2 separate regions of the Homo sapiens genome follow, and region 1 is linked to region 2. The links come from fine-mapping of genetic effects on gene expression. Tissue or cell type: testis. Region 2 holds a variant in brackets; the other region holds the start of a gene. All regions are shown on one strand. Distances are between the middles of the regions.

Region 1 (2,680 bases), 85 kb before region 2:
ATACAAAAATTAGGTGGGCGTGGTGGTAGGTGCCTGTTAACCTTAGCTACTCGGGAGGCTGAGGCAGGAGAATCGCTTGAACCTGGGAGGTGGTGGTTGCAGTGAGCTGAGATCACACCACTGCACTCCAGCTAGGGCAATAGAATAAGACTCTGTCTCCAAAAAAAAAAAAAAAAAAAAAAAAAAAAAAAGCCAATCTTACTGCATTAAGTTTTTGAGACAAAAGCTTTTTTTGTCCGTATTGTGAGTTGATCAATAAGGAGACAGGAGCCTGGCTCAAATCTGTCTCTCTGTGTTGACTTTGAGGCACTATTTTTTATTAGAAAAGGTTTAGGAGGTGGACTTTAGGATTAGCAGGTGATAGGTGGAGGAAAGGGGAGGCCTGGAATGTCTCAGACATCTCTGTCTCACAAGAATTGATGTGAGCATTAAGTGAGGTGACCTAGGTAAAGTTGCCTAGGGCCTGGCACACAGGTGGTCAATAAATGTCTGTTCCCACACTCATCAATGTCTGCTCCGACCTCCATCGCGAATATGGGGTCATGACTACGGAAATCATACCACGATAGCTGTCCACAAAAAGGTTCACTCCCGAGGCCCACATTCTGCATATTGATATTCCGAACCACCTGAATCTCCCAGGTCTAGCCCACATTCCTCAAAGGGAAAACCCCAGCCAAAGTGCCGAGGTCACGAGCTGCTTTTTAAACAAGTCCCCAGGGAGAGCAGTTGGGGCCAGAGCCCCAGAGCTGACCTGGTCATTTTTTTGCATAATTGTAAGCAGGAATGCCATGACCTGATTTGTCTTTTAAAACTCTGGGTGGGAGACAGATGGTAGGGGAGAGGAAATTCCTCCCTTGTTCCTTTTCGATGTCTTAGAAGATGTTTATTAATTGGGGGCACAGCTCTACCCTCCCCTACACCCACTCACTGGGCTACTAGAAGGTGCTGTCTCGAAATAGCCCACCCAACCGCAGGAGCCCAGAGCCCACAAGCAGCTCAGGGACTTAGAACTGGTCCCACCCTTCCTCCGGGGACCCCCCCTCCTTAAGCTGCAGTCTGTGGGTGGGCTGCAAGTCCCGCCTCTCCACAACCAGCCCCACCCCTTTCTTCAAAACCCCGCCTCTCCGGTGAGGCCCCGCCCCCTCGAGGCTGCATCCCCGTCCATTGGGCGGCCGGCAGGAGGCGCCAGAGCACAGCCCGCCTTTTCTAGCAGGTTGGCCCCGCCCCTCTCCTGGAGACCCCGCCTCCTCGAGGCTTTCTTTCTGCCTATTGGGCGCCGAGGCCCAGCTCCAGCCCACCTGTTCTCCCCCGCCCCACCCTTTGTGGCCCCGTCCCCTTGAGGCCCCGCCCCGCCCGTTGCGCCGCCGGCAGGAGGCGCCGCGGCACGCGCGGGTCTGGGCGCCGGCCCCAGCCAACGGCGGGTGGGAGCAGCGCGGGAACGTGGCGGCGCGGCGGGTTGTGCCGGAGGTGAGTGTGGGGTGCGCGAGGAGTGACTGCGGAACCGGGGGTGGCTCGTAAGGGGCGCTGCTCGGCCGCTGCCGGGGACCTGGGGCGCGGAGGCCGCGGGGCGCGCTCGGGGACACTCCCGGCCGCTGGTCGGGGCGCGGAGGGCAGGTTTGCCCAGTTGCCATGGGAACCGACTGGCTGTCGGGCCCCGGCCTGGACCGGGGGGCGGTACCCGGAGGCCGGCTAGCGCGGGCAAGGGCGGCCCAGCCTGCGGGGATCCGGGGGTCCGCGCTGCCGACCCCCGAGAGCTCCTGAGCCTGGCTGTCCGCGTGGGCCCCGGACCCCCAACTCCAGGGGACTCTCGGCCCTCAGTTTTCCCGGCTGTGCCCTGGAGGGGGAGCTTCGTCCGGGGCGCGCAGCGGGGGAGCGGGGCGCAGCGGGGGAGCGGGGCGCAGGGTTCCGCGCGCTCTCCCACCTGGGCCGGCGAGACGTCCCCTGCACATACCCCGTCCCGGTTGCAGCCCGATCCCCACTCGTGCGCCAGCTCAAAGCATTGTTTCCCGGCTATTTATGTACCATTTCCAGCCCCTCGACAAATACTGCATCCAAGATAACAGATGCTGAGCCGAGCTCCTGGGGCCTCGCAGGAGGAGCCTGTTGGTGGGGTTGGCAGGGCCCTGGCGGGGCTGCGGACCATCCTGCCCTGCCCTGTCGCCTGTCAAGTGTTTGGCTAATCTGAATTGCACAGAAGAATCTGATTGCTCGTGTCCCGCGGTTAATATAGGCCACCTCTTGTGCATTCCAGACAGGAACCAGTCTTGAAAGTCCCTTTTGCTGGGGGGCAAGTCGGTCTCCTCTCCAGCAGCTAGCAGGTCAGAATTAAATCTGATTGAATTATGTTTGCATTTGAAAGCGTGGCTCGGGCTGGGGCTGTAAAGATAGGATTCATGGAAGGAGGGGAGAGAGCTGAGTGTGTAAAGTCTGCGCTTCGTTTTCCCTCCTGCTGGAAATGATAATGGGTTCCACATTGTCCTGTTGGAGCAGAGAGGTCGCTCCACCCATGTCGTCAGCGCAGCACTGACCTCACTCCCTGTACTCGCCGCTGGGACTTGAGCTTGTTTTTCATCAGAAACTGGACCCTTCCTTGAGAACAAGAGAAAACATTCTCTAAGAGCAGCACCAGCCAGCGCCCCACACCCTCGCTGTCCGAGCCCTGCGCTTTCCCCAAGTA
Region 2 (2,680 bases):
CCAGCACCGAGGACTTCTGCTACGTCTTCACGGTGGAGCTGGAACGAGGCCCCTCCGGGCTGGGGATGGGCCTGATCGACGGGATGGTGAGTGGCCCAGGACCCTCGCCGCACCCCCATACTGGCTGCCTGGCCCCGCCTGTTCATGCAAGCCTGGCCGCAGCTTGCGTGGCCACGTGGCTACAGGAAGGCCTTCGGGGAGGAGAGTGGGGTTGGCCTCTGCAGCTGGGAGGGGAACCCAGCCTGTCCAACGGCCACGCCCCCTGGGCCTGCTGTCTCTTGCCTCTGTCCTCAAGCCTTTGGGGTCTGTCCTGGGCCTGTGGGGACGGTGGTGTCCACTGCTTTTCTGGAGGGACGCGTGAAACCATGAGTGGGCCTGGCTGGATGCCAGGCGGGGGCCTGTAGGTGCCAAGGGAGGGGCTGCAGTGGTCCTCGCTGGGGACAGCCAGTCGGGCCTGCGGAGCTCTGAGGCCTCTGCTTGTCCCCAGCACACGCACCTGGGCGCCCCCGGGCTCTACATCCAGACCCTGCTCCCGGGCAGCCCCGCAGCGGCCGACGGGCGCCTGTCGCTGGGGGACCGTATCCTGGAGGTGAATGGCAGCAGCCTCCTGGGCCTTGGCTACCTGAGGTACCCCCACCGCATGCACGCCCGGCCCCTTCTCCCAGATGCCCTGCTCAGGGGAGTGGACCTGGGGTAAAGGAGAGGCCCGGCTGCACCCTGTGGGTCTCCCCTGGTGCCCTCCTGCCCACCCCCACCTCTGGCATGGATTTCAGAGCTGTGGACCTGATCCGTCATGGCGGGAAGAAGATGCGGTTCCTGGTCGCGAAGTCCGACGTGGAAACAGCCAAGAAGATCCATTTCCGCACGCCCCCTCTCTAGGGGGGCTGCGAGGACACCCCCACAGGCCCGGCACCCGGTCCCACCTGGTGACACTGGGCTTCCTCCCGCCTTCGTCCCTGTTTTGTAACTGACCAAGTTGGGTCCCGGGTGGGGAGCCTCACCCTGGGGACATGCCTGTTGATAACATGCATCTCAGTGTAGGTTCTATTTATATGGCAGATGACGTGAA[A/G]TTGTGATGTTTGTTACAGAGCTTTTATGTTTAAAGACTTCAATGGAGAAGTACGGTTCAATAAACTATTTTTCCCGTTCTTAGAGGGTGCCCTGCTGGGGTCTCAACTCGGGCAGCAGGCGTGGGCTGCTCGGAGGGGCCGCAGGGGCTCCCCATGGCCTCTGCCTGCCACCGGCACGGGAGAATGCAGTGACAGCTGTCATCAGGGGATCATCTGAACTGACTCTCCCTGCCCCCGTCCCACCCAGACACAGGGCACTGCAGGAAGCAGCTCCAACAGCCCCTCCCAGCTGAAGCAGGGCCAGACCTGGCAGAGGATGCTGGACTTCTGATCCCGCTGCTCAGCACAGGCCCCAGAGAAAGGTCTAGACACCCAGGCGTTGGAAAGTGGACCGGCCTGATGGTCTCTGAGGCGCCGAGCCCACCCTGGGCCCTGCTTCCTCTCCCAGGACTCCTGCTCCCTCCTGAGTTCCTCTCCCCTACTAAAGCCACCAGCGTGGCCCTGATACCAGGCTGGCGGCCCCAGGCCCTTAATCCTCACCAGCGTCCCCCTGGCCACCGGCCCTAACCCGGGCAGGAGGCCAGCGTCCCTCTCCACCAGCTGGCTGACCATGCGCAGGACCAGGGCAGGGCACTTGCTGCCTCGGGGTGACAGCGTGGGTCGCTGGGCATCCTCAGCAGCTCCACCAACTGGGTGTGGGTGGCTTCCGCGCCCTCCTGGCTGTGGTGGAACTGGTGGCCCAGGGTCATCTTTGATAGCAACAGAGAAACCCTGGGGAAGAGGGTCCCGGCATCAGTTGCAGATGCACCTCTCACTGGGACAGAGGTCTGTGCGGGGTCCCCAGATCGGTGTCCTGGGTCTGTCCCAGGCCCTGGGCCTCGTGCAGCTCCACGCTGCCCCCTGGTGTGCGCTACGGCGAGGTGCAGCGCGTCCGCCCCGCGCCCTCTGCCGACCCGCAGTTCTGTGTGCGGCTCCGCATTGCGCCTGGCTCGAAACGGCGACCACTGCCAGGTTCCCAAAATACTGGATAAAATATATATATATATATAGTGTTTGTATATATATTTAAGATATGTAAAATATATGAATATATATAAATATATAATTATATATGAATATATTACATATTCATGTATACGTAATATATTCGTATATTTTATAAACATTTTTTATATTTTATTATATAAAATATAAATATTTAATTTTTTTTTATGAGACGGAGTCTCGCTCTGTGACCCAGGCTGGAGTGCAGTGGTGCAATCTCAGCTCACTGCAACCTCCACCTCCCAGGTTCAAGCAATTCTCCTCAGTCTCCTGAGTAGCTGGGATTACAGGCGCCTGCCACCACGCTTGGCTAATTTAGTACTTTTAGTAGAGACAGGGTTTCACCACGTTGGCCAGGCTGATTTCAAACTGACATCAAGTGATCTGCCCGCCTTGCCCTCCCAAAGTGCTGGGATTACAGGCGTGGGATTACCATGCCTGGCCTTGTTCTGTTTCTTTTCCTAGGAGTCCCACAACGTGTGTGTTAGCACTGCCGAGAATGTCTCACAGCTCTGGACGGTCTGCATTTCTGGACCTGGTGCAGATCCCAGGATCCTGGACTCTGA

The links. PIP is the estimated chance that this variant, and not a neighbour inherited with it, causes the effect.
Region 1: it holds the start of RADIL, and the variant in region 2 is fine-mapped to the expression of RADIL in testis (GTEx, PIP 0.96).

Annotation. Positions count from the first base shown.
Region 1 is chr7:4,882,386-4,885,065 of GRCh38, reverse strand. It overlaps RADIL (Rap associating with DIL domain), which reads left to right and starts at 1,350. Exons shown (of 15, transcript NM_018059.5): 1 at 1,350-1,470. RefSeq lists a silencer at 1,319-1,538 and enhancers at 1,248-1,935, 1,936-2,624, 2,354-2,648.
Region 2 is chr7:4,797,577-4,800,256 of GRCh38, reverse strand. RADIL (Rap associating with DIL domain) reads left to right here. Exons shown (of 15, transcript NM_018059.5): 13 at 1-86; 14 at 488-627; 15 at 774-2,680. The coding sequence ends at 879. Among named protein-coding and RNA genes, the nearest start is that of MIR4656, 10 kb to the right of the region's middle. RefSeq lists a silencer at 2,030-2,079. The variant A/G (reference allele first, on the strand shown) is at 1,070.